Homo sapiens: one gene and its partners. The protein of the gene in region 1 purifies or fractionates together with the protein of each later gene. This does not show direct contact. Each region holds a gene or a part of one and is shown in the gene's direction. Other genes may lie near its edges. The genes, in order: APBB1IP, ANXA13 and PLEKHH1.

What was found.
Region 2: the proteins of APBB1IP (region 1) and ANXA13 purify together in Homo sapiens (affinity purification with mass spectrometry; 3 studies listed by BioGRID and IntAct, with this or other methods). This does not show direct contact.
Region 3: the proteins of APBB1IP (region 1) and PLEKHH1 purify together in Homo sapiens (affinity purification with mass spectrometry; 3 studies listed by BioGRID and IntAct, with this or other methods). This does not show direct contact.

The regions. Positions count from the first base shown.
Region 1 is NC_000010.11:26,560,244-26,567,352, forward strand, and holds part of APBB1IP (amyloid beta A4 precursor protein-binding family B member 1-interacting protein), read left to right. Parts: intron 1-486; coding exon 487-601; intron 602-2,082; coding exon 2,083-2,186; intron 2,187-6,717; coding exon 6,718-7,109. UniProt on the Homo sapiens protein: Appears to function in the signal transduction from Ras activation to actin cytoskeletal remodeling. Suppresses insulin-induced promoter activities through AP1 and SRE. Mediates Rap1-induced adhesion.
Region 2 is NC_000008.11:123,699,313-123,706,421, reverse strand, and holds part of ANXA13 (annexin A13), read left to right. Parts: intron 1-3,685; coding exon 3,686-3,780; intron 3,781-7,109.
Region 3 is NC_000014.9:67,557,261-67,564,369, forward strand, and holds part of PLEKHH1 (pleckstrin homology domain-containing family H member 1), read left to right. Parts: intron 1-8; coding exon 9-158; intron 159-2,347; coding exon 2,348-2,431; intron 2,432-4,693; coding exon 4,694-4,775; intron 4,776-4,876; coding exon 4,877-5,634; intron 5,635-6,948; exon of another isoform or gene 6,949-7,109.

The DNA.
Region 1 (7,109 bases):
AGCCAACTTCCTGACCTGGGCACAGCCTTCCTGGTACTGTGAAACAGCTGGCCCACCCTTGGGTTCAGCCACAGACATTATCAGGTTTATTCGCCCAGTGGGTTTTCTAAATGGGAGGAGCGATAGAAACACGAACCTCTCCAGTAACCGGATATTTACTCATGGCGAGTATTGCAAGCTTAGTGTGCAATTAAAAAACGCAAGATGGAACCTGTGATCGAGTTACATAAAGACACACGTAATCAGAACTGAGCAAAGCTCTTCTCTAATATGTAGGTGAAAAAATTAACTGACTCTGTTAATCTGGAAAATGATTGAATGTGTATTTGTTAAATTTTAATGGAAATATCCAAAAAACCAACTCAGACAAGTGGTGAACAGAGTAGCCGTGGAGTATTTATTTCTTCTGTATATGTATATTGCAATTGAGTGCAGAATTTGGGATACATGGATTCCTTTCCTTCTTCCTTTGTGTTCTCTCCCCAGTATGGGAAGACTCTCTATGATAACTACCAGCGGGCTGTGGCAAAGGCTGGACTTGCCTCTCGGTGGACAAACTTGGGGACAGTCAATGCAGCTGCACCAGCTCAGCCATCTACAGGTACTAAGTGGAGGAGAAATTCCAACACATATTCAAAGCTTGGTGCTCCAGTTCAAAATGTATCCAATACATCTATACAAACAGGACTTTGTACACAGCATTCAGAATATGTTTCTCACCTGATGATCAGGCTCAAACTCCCCGACTCAGCCCAGCCCTCACACACACACCCCTATAACATCTGTTTTCTTTTTCTTTTCTTTTTTTCTTTCTTTCTTTCTTTTTTTTTTTTTTTTTTTTTTTTGAGACTCTCTCGCACTGTTGCCCAGGCTGGAGTGCAGTGGCGGGATCTCAGCTCACTGCAAGCTCCGCCTCCTGGGTTCACACCGTTCTCCTGCCTCAGCCTCCTGAGTAGCTGGGACTACAAGCGCCCGCCACCATGCCTGGCTAATTTTTTGTATTTTTAGTAGAGACAGGGTTTCACCGTGTTAGCCAGGGTGGTCTTGATCTCCTGACCTCGTGATGCACCTGCCTCAGCCTCCCAAAGTGCTGGGATTACAGGCGTGAACCATTGCACCTGGCCTGTTTTCTTTTTCTTCTTTGCTTTTTTTTTTTTTTTTTGGAGGTAAGGTCTTGCTCTGTCACCCAGGCTGGAGCCCTGTATCTATTTTAAGCGCCTTTTAACAAAGCTTTGACCACTTCTTTCGTGATATTCTGTGGATGAGGTGTTGATCTCCTGTTTACAGTGAGCTAGTAGGTAGATGTTTCTTATCAAAGTACAAACATTATATCAGTCCAAGGCTCCATTAGTGCCCAGAAAACTGTTCACACCAAGAATAAGATTATGCCCTGGTGTTTTGATGTCTTGCACCCAATCCTGGACAGCACATTTTAAGGTAACATGAGTCAAAGTTCTGTGTCAAAAGGACAAATTAAAAGGCAGGAAAATAAAATAGCATACCAGGACTTTTGGGGGGAAAAACCACATCTAATTCCAGATTATTTCAAGGACCCCCACATTTTGCCCGAATTTCTGTCTGTTGTTTCTGTGTCCAATGTACTTTTTGTTGAGGACAATGTTGAAGAGTTGTTCCTGTACCTGTACTCAGTGTGGTGTGAAACTGGATAAATACATTTTAAAAAAATCAAGAATTTTTAAAAATATGTTTTCAAGGTTTATTCTTCAATTACTGAAAAGTTTTTAAAAGTAAAACATATTGTTACTCTCCAGGATCCCAGTTAGTCCAGACCCTCCTCAGTGGGCTTTATCAAATACCGTACTCACCTTCCTGATCTTTTTGCTGAATCTCATATAAAGTTTTGTCACAGAACCTCAGATTTTTCTTAAGGTTTTGTGTACCATGCCATGCCTGTGAGTTGCTCTCTTTGCTTTGTTTTTATTTTTGTTTTTTTTGTAAGAACTAGCCAACAAGTATCTTTCTTTGCTTTAGAGATGCAAACTGCTTTGTATTTTCAGATCGACTTTCAAGAATGTTGAAAATGCTTTGCTCACTCTTCTTTTCTCACTTCTTCCCTCTCAGGACCTAAAACAGGCACCACCCAGCCCAATGGACAGATTCCCCAGGCTACACATTCTGTCAGTGCTGTTCTCCAAGAGGCCCAGAGACATGCTGAAACATCGAAGGTAAAACCAGCAAGCAGCTGACCCCTATAAGCCATGTTCTAAACCATTCACATTATTCCAGTAACTGCTCTTTTAAAAAGAGAAAATAAGCTGAGTGCAGTAGCTCACACCTGTAATCCCAGAACTTTGGGAGGCTGAGGCAGGAGGATCACTTGAGCTTCAGTTTGAGACCAGACTGGGCAATATAGCGAGAGCTTGTCTCTACTAGAAAAAAAAAATTAGCCAGGCATGGTGGCATGCACCTGTAGTCCCAGCTACTGGGGAGGCTGAGGTGTTTGACTTGCTTGAGCCCAGGAGGTTAAGGCGGCAGTGATCTGTGATTGCGCCACTGCATTCCAGCCTGGGCGACAGAGTAAGATCCAGTCTTAAAATAAATAAATAAATAAATAAATAAATAGAAAATGCAGTTCCAACAACTGAGAAGTTACTACAATTTAATTTAGTTGATTGCTTGATATTTGTAATCTTAAAGTTACATATGCTAGAATCAAAAGTTAAAACCAGCTATCATCACACTGCTTAGGAAAAATGTAAGCATTTCCTTTAAACTCTGGAGTTAATTAGCTATGTTTACTTTGACCAAAGTGGTTTTCTTGGTTTAGTCAAGTGATTTTAGCCCTCTCTGATAGTAGCACATCCAAGTTTTAAACCCATGGGATTTTACTTGCCTTTTTTGAATAAAATAGGGCAACTAGTAGTCTGAAGCCCTATATGAAGTGCTAACTGGCCCCCAAAATCAGATTAGAAGACTGCTAAAAGAGCTACATTATAAATAGGGCTGGGCACAGTGGTGAGCACCTGTAGTCCCAACTACCTGGGATGCTGAGGCAGGAGGATCCCTTGAGCCCAGGAGTTCAAGGCTGCAGTGAGCTCTGGTTGCACCACTACACTCCAGCCTGGGTGACAGATAAAGACCCTGTCTTAAAAAAAAGAAAAAAGATAAAGAAGGGTTACACTAAAAATGTGTATTTTCTATTTTCCCCATTAATGTCCTTCCTACATACATCCCCAGGTGATGGAGGAGAAAATACATTGTAAAATAATAGCCAAATTGGTATAATTCTCCATAAAATTTTTTCAACCGAATAGATCAGTGAAGATTCCTTTAAATCTATCTTAAAATCATAACTAATAATTATTATTTAGTTACTAATTTAGTTCAAAGCTTCTCAGCTGACTGTATATATTCTGTTGAATATTTCTCTTGTGTGATTCAAAACAACCTTAAATAACTGTGACAATAGCATATCACCCAGCTAGGACAGGCAGGGTGCTTCACTTCAACAATTTTTCACTTCTTTCACCCCTTCATTTTGTCCATCAGCCAGTGGTGAAAACAACTAAATATTGGTATTTATCGAACTTATAATTTTGACAACCACTGCAGACCTTTAAACGTTGTATTTCTTTAATGTTCTCATTATCTTCTCAAGCCTGACAATCTCCTCATGCGATGTGCTTTCAGCTACTATTATTTTCATTATTTCTAAATGCCAATTGAAGGACAGCATTTAAAAATGCTGAAAGAAATAAAAGAATCTCAGAATAGAAATCACTTAACTATATGTGAACACCAATTCCCAAGCTGCCTGTTCAGAAATTTAAATAAAAAGAAAAAATACATCACCAGTTAAAGAGCTTATCATGTGAAGTAAATAAACTAAATAAAATAGAAACTAAATCAGAAGGCACTTTATTAGAAAAAAATTCCAAATTTAATCTTCAATGGTAAGAGGCCACTAAGCAGAGAATGAAATGAACTGGAACCCTGATAAACTGTAAATTGAAATGATAATTATCACTAAAACAGAGGGATTCAATCCAGCTGCCTGGGGATGTTTCATTATATAAATTATTATTATCTATTCCAGTATTGGCAGAGGAAGGGCTATGCGTCTATTAGACTTAGGCCAAATTTGGCATGCTGGTTTCTACCAATAGCACATGCTGGTGATTTTACTTTTCAGAACTCACATATTTATCTCATTTGATCTCATCACAACCTGAGACACGAGTCATAATGAGGACTATGGGGCTAATTTTATATCCAGTGAACCAGCCAAGTTTCATGCAGTTGAGAAATGGTAAACTGTCCAGACATAGTGGCTCACGCCTGTAATTCCAACACTTTGGGAGGCCGAGGCAGGCGGATCACCTGAGTCCAGGAGTTGGAGACCAGAGTGGCCAATATGTAGAAACCCTGTCTCTACAAAAAGTACAAAAATTAGCTGGGGGTGTTGGCACACACTTGTAATTCCAGCTAATCCGGAGGCTGAGGCATGAGGATTGCTTGAGCTCGGGAGGTGGAGTTTGCAGTGAGGGGAGATGCTGCCACTGCACTCCAGCCGTGGTGACAGAACGAGACTCTGCCTCAAAAAAATAAAAATAAAAATAAAAATAAAATAAAATAAAGAAAAGAAAAAGTAAACTTATTAGAGACCAGATGTCCTGTCCTGATTCCTGGCCCACCACACTGCCTTCCCTGAAGCTGTGAGGCCAGCTGGAGCCAAGCTTGTAATCGGCTCCTCCCTAGAAGCCCACAGTCCTGGCAAAATGGACCTGTGTTCTCAGCTCACCAACACAAGGAGACATTGTCCCCAAAATCAGGCAGAAAGGTCTTTGCCAGGCAACATATCCTTTGTGCCTACGTTTGCACAAAGCTTACCTGTAGCCAAGAGAGAACTATTTCCATTCACTCTTCCCTTTCCATCTCCTTCATCCTAATCAAAGTAGGACATTTAAGCCAGGAGACTGTGTGAAGGTTTTGGGAAGTCCTCAACCCCCAGGAGTTGCTGTGTGTTTCTACTGTGTGTTGTGTGGAATAGGAGCAAGATAATTTTACAGACGCTTACTCCTGACACGAGCTTCACAACCAGCTCAACTCAGACCAAGAAAAAATGTATCCCTTCCTATATGACGAGGACTCTGGTGGCTTGGCTTGAGAACCAAGGAGTGAAGTCATTTGGCTTCCATTTTGAAGGAATGAATGAGCTGAGGGTGGTTTATAGACTGAGCCAACCCCACAAGAGATATACCACGAAAGCCCCTTTAGAGACACACAGCAACTCCTGGATAAGGCAAGTTCCAAGGAAGTGATACTCATGTGATCTAAATACGATCTAAACACCTCATTGAACATAGCCAGATCTTCCATTTATAGGAGACTTGGTAGATGAGTGCCACAGGGTAACTGAACCCAGGTTTGGCTGCTCACCACTTAAAAGCCAGACTCAAGAGATTAGGGATGATGGGAGGAAAAGGTGGTTTATTTGGAAAGCCAGTAACACCATGAAGATGGTGACTAGTGTTCTAAAGTGCAATCTTAAATTTTTCAGGCTAACTGGAGGATTTTAATGGGTGTGGGATATGGGGAAGAGGAGAGAGTTGGGGAGAGAGTTGAGATCAAAAGATGACCAGAGACTGCAGACATCTGGGTGCCAACAAGAGTCCAAAGAGGTTGGGAACTACTCTGTCCTTGGTCAGGTTACAATGGTCATATAAATCTTTAACAAAACATAGTTGTTTACTTCTTTAATCCCAGAGTTAGTTTTTAAAACTACATGATTGCTGGGTTTGCATATTTATATCAGTGCTCTAAAATTATCCTATGTGCAGGAATGGGTAAAGGCCACTTTAAACAAAAATGAAGTAAGTTACATTCGTTTTTTTTGCTGTTCCACTGTAACAACAGGAAATACTGTTAAAGTCCATTTGGGCCAGGTGGGGTGGCCGTAATTCCAGCTACTCAGGAGGCTGAGGCAGGAGGATCACTTGAGGCTAGGAGTCTGAGACTAACCTGGGCAACACAGCGAGACTCCATCTCTAAAAATATATATAGAGAGAGAGACATAGTCTCGTTGTGTTGCCCAGGCTGGAGTGCAATGGCATGATCTCAGCTCATTGCATCCTCCACCTTCCAAGTTAAAACAATTCTTATGCCTTAGCCACCCCAGTAGCCGGGACTACGGGCGTCTGCCACCATACCAGGCTAATTTTTGTATTTTTAAAGGAGAAAAGGTTTCACCATATTGTTCAGGTTGGTCTTGAACTCCTGGACTTAAGTGATCCACCTGCCTGGGCTCCCAAAGTGCTGAGATTATAGGCATGAGCCACCATGCCCAGCCAAAATATTAAAAAATTAGAAAAATGATTATTTTTAATTTTAAAGACCATTTAGAATAATTGCCTTATTCCAGAACAAAGATGAGCTCATGACCGACCAGGAGTCTCAGTGACTGAGGGACAGAGGCTCCCCAGGGGGCGGACAGAGACTCACATATCTATGGCATGGCCCTGTCCACTAGGGCTGTTTTGTCCACTGGGGCTGCCTTGAGAATAAGGAATGCTACTCGGGAGGTCGAGGCAGGAGGATTGCTTGAGCTCGGGAGGTCGAGGCTGCAGTAAGTCCAGATCGCGCCACTGCACTCAGCCTGGGCGACAGAGTGAGACCCCGTCTCCATTAATTAATAACAATAAATTTAAAATTTCAAAAATTAAAAAAAAAATGAATGCTACTGCCACTCGGTTGCAGGATAAGAAGCCAGCCCTCGGGAACCACCACGACCCGGCAGTGCCCCGGGCCCCGCACGCCCCCAAGTCCAGCCTGCCCCCGCCCCCTCCGGTGCGGAGGTCCTCCGACACCAGCGGCAGTCCCGCCACGCCCCTCAAGGCCAAGGGCACAGGCGGCGGGGGCTTGCCCGCCCCACCCGACGACTTCCTGCCGCCGCCGCCACCGCCGCCGCCCCTCGATGACCCTGAGCTCCCGCCGCCGCCCCCGGACTTCATGGAGCCGCCCCCAGACTTCGTGCCCCCGCCCCCGCCGTCGTACGCAGGGATCGCGGGCTCAGAGCTGCCCCCGCCGCCGCCGCCGCCGCCCGCGCCCGCGCCCGCCCCCGTCCCCGACTCCGCCAGGCCGCCCCCCGC
Region 2 (7,109 bases), on another chromosome or scaffold:
CGCAGAAAGGCTCCTTCCGGGCTTGGCACCTGCCAGGATCCAGGCCTGAGAGGCCAAGGCCCTCGTCTGGGACAGGAGTGGCCTGAATGGAAAGAAAGAGGTAGGCTCAAGAGATATTTACAAGAAAAAGAAATCCCTTTTGAAGTGAGATTTCTGACACTCCGAAGTTTTTTTTTAAAAATCATAATAGTGTCATAGAATGAGTAATTGGATTCCCACGATGGAGGCGAAGCTCCGGGAGGAAATGAAGGAGGACAACGTGAATCCCAGTGTTGAAACCAAGCCAGCACCAGGCAGGCAACTCACTCCTGCTATTTTTGCAAGTGAGATCCTCCTAGAATTCTGTTTCTCCAATTGAAACCAAACAGCTAAATGTTCCCAGAGCTGTAGAGGTGAAAATACTCTTTGAGGTTAAGTGAACGGTTCAAGGACCCAAAGGTTTGGAACATGGTTGTCACATCAGACCCCTGCTCAGGCCTGTCTTTCCAAGTCGCCTCTCTGTCTTTCCAAAGCTGACTCTGAGGGCTGGTGCTGGAGCAGAAGGAGGGTTAAACAGCTCACATTTTTTTGCCAGGGCTCCCTTTTTTTTCTCTACCCCATCTCCAGCTAGTTTCCCTCCATTCATTTCCCATCCCCATGGCCTAGATTTTTCCTACTCTCAACCCTTCCATCAAAATGCATTGCACGATCTTGTTCCTTCAGGATCCTGATGGCTCAGCTGGGTGGCAGCCATCATCTAGGTCCACACACCAACCAGAGCAAGACAGCAGTAAGTGACACTGTAACAGCACACACTGCCATGTAGTGGCCACTCCCTAGAGCCCAGGTGTCGGGCTCAGAATGTCACTACTGCAGTCTTGGATAATCACTGCAGTGATCCTAGAAACATACATGTAAATAGTGTGCTGTGCCAAAACAGAGGAAGCAGAAACTTAACAAGTGTGGCTGAGATTAGGTGAGTAAGCCTTGGGCTGCTCTGTGCAGAGATGGATCTAGAAGAGTAGCATGACACCAAACTGCGGGAAGTCTCGATGCCACCATAAGGGATTCTGATGTAATTCTAGGAGTCAAGAGGAATCACTAAAGGTATTTAAAGTATGGTGTGAAGTGAACACATGCGAGCTTCCCAGGGTGGACTGCAGAGATCAGAGCCTGGTATCGGGGTGAAGGCTAAAAACACTTAGGACCTGTTAGGCAGTGACAGAAGGAATGAAGAAGAGGAACAGGTAAAAGAGTTGTCTCATAGGTGAGACAGGCAGGACTTGGTAGTATTTGAGAGTAAAAAAGACTGATGGGCCCTCAAAGGTGACTTTGGATTTTCTCTAATCCGTGTGATGCCATGCACTGAGACAAAGGAACAGGATGAGGAGTGGATTTAAGGATAGACAAAATGAGTTTGGTTTAAGCTACAATGGAAGTTGAAATGCCTTGGGAGATCCGTGGGAAGTTGACTACAGGCAGCTGGAAATAAGATCTGAACTCAGAGGAGAGATTAGGGCTAGAGGCGCTGATCCTGGAGTCATCAGTCAAAGGGCGAAAGTCGCCTGGGAAAGGAGTGACTCCAATAGAGAGGAGAACTGAAAATCGAGTTTAAAAGGCCAGTGGAAGAATACAGGCCAATCAAGAACCCTGAGAGGGAGGTGATGGAGAGGAGAAAGGAAAGACTGGGAAAGGAGGTACAAAGCCATCTAGGAAGGTGTTTCACGCAAAGAATTGTCAACCGCAGGCCGGGTGCGGTGGCTCATGCCTGTCATCCTAGCACTTTAAGAGGCTGAGGCAGGTGGATCACCTGAGGCCAGGAGTTTGAGACCAGCCTGACCAACATGGTGAAACCCCATCTCTACTAAAAATACAAAAATTAGTTGGGCATGGTGGTGGGTGCCTGTAATCCCAGCTACTCGGGAGGCTGAGGCAGGAGAATTGTTTGAACCCAGGAGGTGGAGGTTGCAGTGATCATGCCACTGCGCTCTAGCCTGGGTGACATAGCCAGACCCTGTCTCAAAAAAAAAAAATAATTCCCGACTGCAGAATTCAAATGCTGCAGAACAGTCAGGTACATGCAGGAACCGAGAAGAGGTGCTGCATTGTGCCTCAGCTTCCTCTTCTGTAAAGAAGAGCTTGGACTAGATAGTCTCTAACATTTCCTCCAGCTCCAGAGATTGCTGACTGCTGTGCCTTGATCCCACCGAGCTCGATCACTGGGGTGAGCAGTTCATGGAGGGTGGTCCCTGTGCACACCCTGCATGGATGTGAGGCAGTGCCAGGCGCGTGGTCATTTACATCCCCTGGTGTCCCGGGTTTCCCACGTGCGTGCTTAGGACCACCGCGGACTGGACCCACACTTGGATTCTCGCATTTCATTCTCACAATAGCCTTGTATACTATTACCCTCATCTTAGAGGTGGGAAAACTGAGACTTGGCAAGAAAAATCACTTGCCCAATGTCATGCAGTCGGTACAGGGTGGAGCTGTGATTTGAGTCCAACCTGAATAAATCTAATGTGGGGTTTGATGGTAAAACCGTCTTTCTTATTCGCACACTGGAAATACCTGTGTCATCTTTCCGATCCTGGTTCCTGGTTCAAACAAGGACATTCTCCCCTTCTTTCTTATTCACTATAGTTTTCAGTACTGATCAAATTGCTGCCATGAGCTTGTATTACTTTGAGCATCAGGGGTAAAAAAGCTTCTAAAAATAACATAATCTAAAGGTAATAGGAGTTAAAAGGGGCAACCTCCCTTCATGGTTTCAATCAAGACTTCTCTCCTGAGATTAACAAATGTATGGGTGGGGTTAATATTGTAACAGTTTCAGCCTATATCCTAATCTTGTTCATGCAATTGTAAGCACCCAGAGGCCAAGGAACAGGCCATCTTTTTCCTTTTTGTTTTTTAAAACATTTTAATTGAGATATAATTCATGCACCATATAATTCACCCATTTAAAGTGTTCAATTCAACAGTTTTTATTATACTCACAGATGCATGCAACCACCACCACAGTCAATTTTAGAACATTTTCATCACTTCAAAAAGCAGCCCTGGACTCCAGCTACCATCCCCCTAGGCAGCCCACCCACCCCCAGCCACTAGTATACTTCCAGCCTCTGTATATTCTCCTGTTCCGGACTTTCATACGAATGGAATTATATAACATGTGATCTGCTATGATTGACTTCTTTCACTTAGCATAATGTTCTCAAGGTTCATCCATGTTATAACATCTATCAGTAATTTATTCCTTTTTCTGGCCAAATAACATTCCATTGTATGGATACCCCATATTTTGTTTATTCATCTTCAGGTGATGAACACTGGGGCTGCTTCCACGTTTGAGCTATTATGAGTAATGCTGCTATGAACATTCACATGCAATTGTTGGGTGGACATATGTTTTCATTTCCCTAGGAATAAAATTAAGGAACCAGCCATACTCGTTCCTCTTTCCACCACAATGCCTAGCACTGTGTGCCATGTGCTGTGAGGCCTCAATGGCTATTTGTCTAAGTGAATGAAAAGAATACAGTTTTCAGCACAAGGCATCAAAGCTAAGGGTCCGTTGGGTTCCATAGACACCTCCAACCACCTTTAAGCTGTGAGTCCTGGCTTCCTCACCCTGGACTAAAATAAACTTCCACCTTGTTTCTTATTCACTGTGGCTTTGTTTGTTTCTCCTGTATTTTAGGGACCAATGAAGCAGCCATCATTGAAATCTTATCGGGCAGGACATCAGATGAGAGGCAACAAATCAAGCAAAAGTACAAGGCAACGTACGGCAAGGTGATTCCAGGGGTGGTCAGCAAGCTTGCACCCAGCCATGGCCTCAGCCGTCTCGGCTTCCTCATGTCCCCAGGCCACGCAGAATATCTTTATAGCTTTATTGAGTCAGCCCAGGAGGAAAAGTGAAATAACCACTTAAAAGCATTAATGGAGTTCAGAAAAACTGAAATTGCTTTGTTAACTCAATAGCCTGTAAAATCAATACTCTTAAACTCATTTCTTAAATTGACTTCATTTTTCTATGAAGACCCTAGTCTTTTTTTCACTTAATTGGGACTAACTGTACATATGTAGCTAGATCAGTAATTTGAAAATCAGTTTCCACAAGTGGGTCTTTATACAGGAATTTTTCATAAGCGATTGTTACAGAAAACTACCAAAAAAACTCTCCATTTTATTAAGCTATCAACACCTATTTTTCTTTACATTTTCTTTCTTTTCTTTCATTCTTTTTATTGTTGAAAATAATTTTATAGAGAGAAGTCTTCAAGTATGCATTAGGCTTTCTTATTTCTTTATTAATATGTAATGAACACAACTTAAACTTTTCTTAATGTCATTAGAATTATCATTATGCAAAATGAATATCAATTATTATGCTGTATTCTCATTTATATTTTTCAAACTTTTACCATTTCAATCACTGTAGGTATAAATAGATATATAGAAAGATGAAGATGGGTTTTCCTATTTATTTGATACTGAGCAGGTAACAATTGCTTCAGGCCTTGGTCTTTTCATGGATAGAAAGAAGATGATAACTTAGCTCCCTTCTCAGGTTGCTGGGAGAATCAGTCAGGATAATGCCAGCATGTACCAATACAGGAAAAAGCTATGATAGCTATGATTGTTTCCATTTTACAAAATCACACACCTAAAAAAAAAAAAGAGAACCAGGACTCACATCCAAGTCTCACATCCAAGTCTCCTGACTTCAAGAACAGTATCCATTCCTGGAGGACCCAGTGCCATAAATAGAGCTATTTGCTTGTACACTAAATGGCCCAAATGGCTGTGCTTTTGTGCTTTTTCTGCTTCTCTCCTTACTATTAGGTGCGTCAATGTAATTTTTGATGAAAATAAGTGCATCTTCAGTTCAACTGCATTTAATTGAATGCATGAAGCTGAATGTGTGTGTGGTTTTTTTTGTTGTTGTTGTTTTGTTTTGTTTTGAGACGGAGTCTCACTCTGTTGCCCAGGCTGGAGTGTAGTGGCATAATCTTGGCTCACTGTAACCTCTGCCTCCCGGGTTCAAGCGATTCTCCTGCCTCAGCCTCCTGAGTAGCTGGGATTACAGGCACGCGCCACCATGCCCAGCTAATTTTTGTGTTTTTAGTAAAATTTTTGTATTTTAATTTTGGTCAGGCTAGTCTCAAACTCCTGACTTCGTGATCTGCCCACATCAGCCCAAAGTGCCAGGATTACAGGTGTGAGCCACCGTGCCTGGCCTGAAGCTGAATTTTTATCCCTGTCAACATCCCTAACTCCAGTAGCCTCCCAAGACACATTCACCCTACCAATATGAAAAGTCAGTCCAGGCAAGGTGGCTCACACCTGTAATCCCAACACTTTGGGAGGCCAAGGCAGGAGGATCACTTGAGCCCAGGAGTTTGAGACCAGTTGAGACCTTCATCTCTACCAAAAATAAAAAATTAGCTGGGCATGGTGGTGTGTGCCTGTAGTCCCTGCTACTCAGGAGGCTGAGGCTGGAGGGTTGCTTAAGCCCAAGAAGTTGAGGCCTCAGTGAGCCGTAGTTGCACCACTGCACTCCAGCCTGGGTGACAGAGAGAGACCCTGTGGAAAGGAAAGAAAGAAAAGAAAAGAAAAAGAGAGAAAGGGAGGTGGAGAGGAAGGGAGAGAAGGGAAGGAAGGAAAGAAAAAGAAAGAACAAAAGAATGAAAGAGAGAGAGAAAGAAAGAGAGGAAGAAGGAAAGAAAGAAAGAAAAATCGGATACAATGCTTCTTAATCTTTAGTCTTTAGTCTAAAGAAGAGTAAATGGATTCAAACTGAAAGCCTAGGGGCCCTGTTAAAACTTAAATGGGCATGTTCTGGCACAAAACTTTGTGATACTTCATTTGCCAATCATTTGCTTACTTTCTGGTTCTCAGCTGTGTTTCAGAGAACTGAGACTGCCAAACAGATAATCTAGAATCCCAACAACGCAAAGCTAGAAGATGTTAGGTATGATCCAATCTCAGCCCCGTGTCAGTTGACCTCCAAAGAGAATAACCACCCCGTGGTAACAGAGTCAGCAGGAAAACCAGGAGTAGAGCTGAGCTATCCCGAGCCTTCTACTCTGTCCAGTCAGAATGTAAGCACACAAGGATTTGTTTTTATGCCTGTGGCTTGTAAGAGTGGGAAGCTGGGATTTTTCTTCTCTGCAGCTTATATAATGCCCATCTGGCCTGAAAATATATTTCCAATTTTTAGATGACTCCACACCATAGAGTACTGACCACAGACCTGCCTTCACAAGATGCAGTGTTGGCTGGAGCAGCCACTGTGGGGCGGAGGCATAATATAACAGCCCCCTTGTAGGACTGCAGATCCCAGGGCTTTGGACAAAAATATTCCGGGTTTTTCTCCCAGGCCAAGAGCTCAGAGCTTCATTTGAAAAATAGTTGATGTGCCTCCTCTTAGAAAATTTTTTTCAGCATGGGAGATTAATGATAAGCATTTATTGACCGTTTAAAATATGTCAGGCAGTAATGCTCAGTATTGACAAGGATTGTCACATTTAATTCTCCCAAAAACCCTGTGAGGTCAGTCTAGCACTGTCTCCATTTTCTAGAGCTGAAAACTGACAGTTGGTGAGATTAAGTACATTTCCAAGGTCACAAAGGTACTGTGGCTGTGTTCTTTGCCACCATGCCACACTGCTGGGGAGCTGCCCACCCTATGCTATAGTTTGTGTCCTTGAAATGCCAGCTTGTCTATGGGCCTCCAATCTGAGCCATCCCAGGCTGTCGCTCTATGTGAAGGTCTTTGGTTTAAGTTAGGGCATTAACTACTCTAGGTAGGCTGATGCCCATCCTTGACCATTTCTCCTGTTAAACCACATTGTCAGAGGGAGACAGGGAGAAGGTAGTTAGTTTTCTTGTGAAAAGAGGGTGCTCAAAGAAAAGAGGAAGACAGGTGCTTGTCAGAATAGATGGCAGGCTGGGGTCATGGTGGCTCACGCCTATAATCCCAGCACTTTGAGAGGCTGAGGTGGAGGATCGCTTGAGCCTAGGAGTTTGAGATTAGCCTGGACAACATGGCAAAACCCCATCTCTACACAAAAAAATTTAAAAATTAGCCGAGCATGGCAGTGTGTACCTGTAGTCTC
Region 3 (7,109 bases), on another chromosome or scaffold:
CTTTTCAGGTGGGTGTCATGGAAGAGAAGGTAAAACTATCCAATCTGAAGAATGTGGACTCTGAGGGGAGCCTGCACCGGAAATACCAAGAATTGCTGAAAGCCATAAAGGGCAAAGATGAGCTCATCAGCCAGCTAGAGGCTCAGCTGGAGAAGCAGGTAAGGGCTCATGCGCAAGGGAGCACCATGCCCTCTTCGACATCTGTACTGCTGGCCCCCAGCTTCCTGAGCTGTTCCGCTCAAGCCCTCTAGTGCTGGGGAACTCGCTCCCTCCTGAGCCTATTCTTTTATGTGAAAATTTAATTATAGGAAGGACTGTTCCTCCCACATCTGCTCATTAGAAGCCAGGCAGGGGATAGAGTAGAAAAAGGAGCTTGGAGGCAGACTGATCTGGGTGTGAAGCCCACCTCTAGCACCTGCTGCCTCTGACAGTGGGCAAAGTGTTTAAGTCACTGATTCTTATTTTACACATTTATAAAAGAAGGGTGGAAACACCTCATAGAGCTGCTGGGAGAGGCAACCTATGTGACCTGTGCCTAGTGTCAGGCACGTGGTCAGTACTTGGTAAGGAGAACTTTTCTTTCTCCATTCTGGCCTTGTCGTGCCCTGCCAAGATGAGATACTTGATACTTGGCTGTAGTATGATCAGAGCTGCACAGAGCTGGATGGTCAGTCGTGGCCAGCTGGTTGCCCAAAGTTTCTTAGTGAAGCTGAAGAGGCAGAGACCAAAGTTGTTGCCTCCTCAGAAAACCAGGGTCTTCCCTTCTGAGCACATGGGAGCCCAGGAGAGGCCACTGCCCAGCATTTCAGCTCCACTTGGCACCTTTGCTCCTGAGAGGACTTCTGGAACATCTACCTGCCAGTTCCTGTGTCCTGCCTTCTCCCCTTCACAATCTCACCAACTCCATCCCAGTTCTGTCCCTTTCCTCTGCCACTGGCCTTACCTACCCAGCTTTCCCCTCGTGCCAGAATGCCATCATTTCCAACTAAACACCCCACAGTCTGGACAGATGACTTTTAATTTCCTACACATGCCTTCTCCATGTAGGAGAAGCCGATCCTGGTGGTGCCTTCCAACCATAATGGGCAGATTCATGTTTACCCATCAGCATTAACCCAATAGGCCCTTAATGGAGGTGCCTTTGTATGCTGTGGGGTACCATGTGCTCCTGAAAATTGATGGAAGAATAGAATTTTGACACATGGAATCTCTGATCAATTCTTCCATTGATTTTAGACATACCTTCTCTTCTGAGTAGCTCATAGTTAGAAGTGGCAGCATCTTGGGGGTTGGTGGACAAAATGACTCCTGCTAAAGCTCCTTAGGTCAGAAAAAAGGTCATTTTACAATTGGAATCAGTAGGTCAATCTCATAAAAGAAAAGGCACTGTTTTGTGAGTCAAGAGACCTGGTTTTAGTCCCAGCTGTGCCATGAATGGACAGAGGCAAGTCACTTCTTGCCATAGCCTTAGTTGCCACAGAAGCACAAAGACAATATCAAACCAGGTCAGGGTTGGCCGACTTTTTCTGTAAAGTCCAGGTAGTAACTATTTTATGTTTTGTGGGCCACAGGTCTCTGTTGCAACTGGTCAAAGCTGCTGTTGTAACATGGAAGCAGCCACAGATAATACGTAAATGAATGAGCATGGCTGTATTACAATGCAACTTTATTTACAAAAACAGGTCTGGGTGGGGGCAAGCAGGTGGAGGACTGGATGTGGCCTGAAGGCCATTGTTTGCCACACCTTAAACTAGATGACCTTTAAGGTCCTTCCAGCTCTGAAATACTGAGAGTCTGACGTTGTCTGATGCTGGGATTATAGGCATGAGCCACCATGCCCAGCCAGGCTGCTCCTCTTCAGATGCCAACCTTTTCAATCATCTCCTCTTTTGACTACTTTGATGGAAATACCTCAGTTATCTGCAATTTTGCCTTATTTTTTTGTTTTTTAACTATAAAGGTAACACATGCTTATAGTTAAAAATAAAAAAACGGCCAGAGGAGTATAAAATGACAAGTCACCTCTCTCTCCCTCCCCAGTCCTTGATTTCTACTCCTCACTATTAACTTTGCTTGCATATGGAGGCACAGCGTTCTCCTTCCATGTCAGGGATATGCCGCGTTTATTCAGCCAACCCCTTCGTGGTGAACACTTAGACTATTTCCAGTTTTGAGTTTTTAAATTTTGTGTTACCTTATCAAATAATATTTCAACAAACGATTTCTGCTCACTGGCTTTGCGAGGTCAGTGGCACGCACACTTGGCCTTTCTTGGGGTTTCCCACCTCCAGTCAGTCACTCTCCTGGTGATTGTTGGGATTAACGGAAGGCCCTCTCTTTCTTGCAGAAGCAGATGAGGGCAGAGGAAGCAAAAACTGTTCAAGAAAAAGCTGCAAAGATCAAGGAATGGGTGACACTCAAGTTGGCAAAGGTGGGTTGGAAACTCATCTTGGAGGCCTGCCAGAGGCATGGCTGGGCCTGCCCTGACCCCCGGAGTTTCCTGCCCCCTACTGTCTAGGGTGCCTCGGCTGACCTTCATTCTGTCCAGCACTTGTTTTGCATTCAGCCTCCATGCTGAGACACCGTAGTTCACTTCCCCTTTCCTTTTGTCTTGGTTGGGTCTCCCTGGAGCTCCTGACTAGCTTGGTGCTGGATTTAAGTTTGCGAGAAGGAATGTGTCTCACTTCTGAAAAGCCCCCTCAGTTTCTTTCTAGGAAGCCCACACAGGCCAGTGTCCACTCTCTCCACTTTCTCTTTTATTTTTATTTATTTATTTATTTATTGGAGACAGAGTCTCGCTCTCTCGCCCAGGCTGGAGTGTAGTGGCGCAATCTCGGCTTACCGCAACCTCCGCCTCCCGGGTTCAACCGATTCTCGTGCCTCAGCCTCCCTGAGTAGCTGGGGTTACAGGCACGCACCACCATGCCCAGCTAATTTTTGTATTTTTAGTAGAGACAGGTTTCACCATGTTGGCCAGGCTGGTCTCGAACTCCTGACCTCAGGTGATTCACCCACCTCGGCCTCCCAAAGTGCTGGGATTAAAGGAGGGAACCACCGTGCCCTGCTACTTTCTCTTCCATCCTCTTCATTCTTTTTAACTATTTGTGTGTGTGTGGTAAAATATACATAAAATGTACCATTTAAGTGTACAATTCAGCAATTCAGTGGCATTAAGTACATTCACAGTGTTGTGCAGCCATCACTGCTATCTATGTCTAAAATTTTTCCAAACAGAAACTCTGTACCTGCTAAACACTAACTTCCCATTCTCTCTTCCCCCATCGCCTGGTAACCTCTATTCCACCTTCCCTCTCTATCTATCCATTTTTGTAGTTTATCACGTGCTGTACCTTTATTTAGGAAACTCAGGACTTGAAGCTACAGTGCTATCACCAACAGACAGAAAACAACCTCCTTCTAAATAAAAGGAGTGGGAATTGCAGTTTGGAAAAGGATGAACATATATCTTTTTTTTTTTTTTTTTTTTGAGACGGAGTCTCGCTCTTGTTTCCCAGGCTGGAGTGCAATGGCACAATATCGGCTCTCTGCAACCTCTGCCTCCTGGGTTCAAGCAATTCTCCTGCCTCAGCCTCCTGAGTAGCTGGGATTACAGGCACACGCCACCACGCCTGGCTAATTTTTGTACTTTTGGTAGAGACGGGGTTTCGTTATGTTGGCCAGGCTAGTCTTGAACTCCTGACCTCAGGTGATCTGCCCGCCTCAGCCTCCCAAAGTGCTAGGATTACGGGTGTGAGCCACCACACCCGGCTGACAAACATACATCTTTTCCTCTGTCCTCACACAAGTGGTTCACACCTGCAGGAGGGTATCAGCTCATTTGGCCTCCTATCCCCTTCTTTGGATGTACATCTCAGGTCACCTGCTAGACTGCAAGTTCTTGGAGACAGAACTGATGCCTGGCTTACCTGCGTATTCTCACAGTCCCAACCCTTGCTAAAAGATACTCAATAAAAGTGTGTTGGACTTAATTTAAAGGAAAATGCAGGCTGGGGGCAGTGGCTCACACCTGTAGTCCCAGCAGCACTTTGGGAGACCTAGGCGGGTGGATTGCTCGACACTAGGAGTTTGAGACCAACCTGGCCAACATGGCAAATCTCTGTCTCTACAAAAAATACAAAAATTAGCCGGGCATAGTGGCGTGCACCTGTAGTCCCAGCTACTCGGGAGGCTGAGGTGGGAGGCTAAGGTGGGAGGATGGTTTGAGCCCTGGTGGCAGAGGTTGCAGTGAGCCAAGATTGCACCACTGCACTCCAGCCTGGGTGATAGAGCCAGACCTTGTCTCAGAAAAGAAAAGAATATGCAGCAGCCACGCTCAGTGGCACATGCCTGTAATCCCAGCACTCTGGGAGGCTGAGGTGGGCAGATCGTTTGAGTCCAGGAATTTGGGACCAGCCTGGGCAACATAGCGAGAGCTTGTCTCTACAAAAAAATAAACGAAATTAACTGGGCCTGGTGGTGTGTGTCTATGGTCCCAGCTACTCAGGAGGCTGAGGTGGGAGGATCAGTTGGGCCTGGGAGGTCAAGGCTGCAGTGAGCCAAAATTGCTCCACTGCAATTCAGTCTGGCCAACAGAGCAAGACCCTGTCTCAAAAAAAAAAAAAAAAAGAATTGAAAAAATACATCTAAACCTGTAGGCTGGGTGTCCTAAATCTTCATTTTTCTTTTTGCTCAGCTTGAGATGGAGAATCAGCATCTGAAAAGCCATAATCAGCGCCTGGTGGAGCAGGTGGGATCCCTTCAAGATGCGCTAGAAGGTAGGCAGGCCAGGGTGTGCAGGTGTGCAGTACGTGTGTTTGGTGGGTATGGGGCTGAGCTACGGGAGCTCTCAATGTGACTGTTTTTACCCGAATCACAGCTATTCAGATAGCTCCTTCACGGAAGCTGCTGGTGCCCCCCTACGGAGCTGCAGAGCAGGATTCTGTCCCTTCAGAGCCGGGAATCCAGCCTATGGGCCAGGACAGTGGCTCCCAGGCCCAGGGTCTGAAGGCAGCTGTGCTTGCACCTTCCCCAGGTGCCCTGCAGAGCAAGGACTCTGTTTCTGAAGCAGCAAGCCCCTTGGAGGATTCTAGTTCCAGCACGGTCCATTCTGGGGAAACAGTAGAGGCCAAGCCCCTTCAACCTCATCTGGGAAGAGAGAGCCCTCCCCACCAGCCATGCATGAAGCTTCTTACCTTCAGATGTAGTTCAGCTTCCTGGGGTGAGGGTCTGGTTACTGCTCAGAGAGGGATGCTCCCTGGGACAAAGACCTCTGCCAGGGAAGGTGGTCCTGGCAGCAGTCTGACCCTACCAAAGGTGCGGGCTCCTGGCACCCCGCGGGACAGCATCCAGTTGGCCAAAAGGCACCACAGCCAGCCCCAGGTGGGCCATGGGCACTTTGGCCGTGTGGTGAACATTGAGACTGAGGCCTTCTCAGCCCTCCACCCCTCTGGCCTTCCTGAGCTGGAGTCCCGAGCTAGGTCCCGGGAGGAACCAGAGAAGATGGAGATGGAGGAGCCACCCCCAGCAGGGAAGAATGAGGAAAGAGAGAGCCCAAAGGCCCTTGGAGCTGAGCTGGAGGAAGTGGAGCTGGGTAACAAGCCACCTACACCCCCGCTGCACCAGTTTTCATCCTGGGTAAGAGGCAACCTCCGGGCTGGGCAGAGGAGCAGAGCTAATGGCAAGAACACTGCTGGCTGAGCACAGCCATGCACTGAGCAGGAGAGGAGGCTGCTGGCATCCTCATGGTGGCCCTGGCAGGCAGGTACCATGGAGCCTGTGCAGACCACACAACCAGTGAGGGTCAGCGCCAGAATTCAGAATGATGTGAATGGCGGTTGGCTGTCATTTCCTGAGTGCTCACCGTGCACCATACATTGAGCTGGGTGCCCTGCATACCTTTTCTCATTTAATCTTTGTGAGTCTTTCAGGTGGTCTGGTATGATGGTCAAGAGCATAGGCCCCAGAAGCAAACCACTAGGGTTGAACTGTTAACTACGTGACCTTGGACATGTTACTGAACCTCTGTGCCTCAGCTTCCCTGTCTATAAAATGGGGATAATAGTACCTACTTTATAGGGTTGTTGTGAAAGTACTTACAGTAGTGGTTCACAGTAGGTGGTAGGTAAGTGTTGGCTATTTTTCTTTCTTTGTTTTTCTTTTTCTTTTCTTTTTTTTGGGGGGTGGGGGTGAGGGGGCAGAGTTTCACTCTTACTGCCCAGGCTGGAGTGCAATAGCATGATCTTGGCTCACTGTAACCTCTGCCTCCTGGGTTCAATCAATTCTCCCGCCTCAGCCTCCCAAGTAGCTGGGATTACAGGCATGCACCACCACGCCCAGCTAATTTTGTATTTTTAGTAGAGGCAGGGTTTCACCATGTTGGTCAGGCTGGCCTCAAACTCCTGACCTCAGGTGATCCACCCTCTTGGGCCTCCCAAAGTGCTGGGATTGTAAGTATGAGCCACTGAGCCTGGCTTTTTTTTTTTTTTTTTTTCGAGACAGAGTCTTGCTCTGTCACCCAGGCTGAAGTGCAGTAGCACGGTCTCGGCTCACTGCAACCTCCGCCTCCCAGGTTCAAGTGGTACTCCCACCTCAGCCTCCCAAGTAGCTGGAATTACAGGTGTGTGCCACCATGCCCGGCTAACTGTTTTTTTTTTTTTTCTGAGACAGAGTCTTGCTCTGTTGCCCAGGCTGGAGTGCAGTGGCACAATCTCAGCTCACTGGAAGCTCTGCCTCCCAGTTTCACGCCATTTTCCTGCCTCAGCCTCCCAAGTAGCTGGGACCACAGGCACCTGCCACCACGCCCGGCCAATTTTTTGTATTTTTAGTAGAGACGGGGTTTCACCATGTTAGCCAGGATGGTCTCGATCTCCTGACCTCGTGATCCGCCCGCCTCAGCCTCCCAAAGTGTAATTTTTATATTTTTAGTAGAGTCGGGGTTTCACCATGTTGGCCAGGCTAGTCTCAAAGTCCTGACCTCAAGTGATTCACCTGCCTAGGCCTCTCAATGTGCTGGGATTATAGGCAACTGCGCCAGGCCAGCTTCCTTACTTGTAACATTGGATAAAATGTCTTGATATCTGTCTGGTAGAAATACTTCAGAAGCAATGATC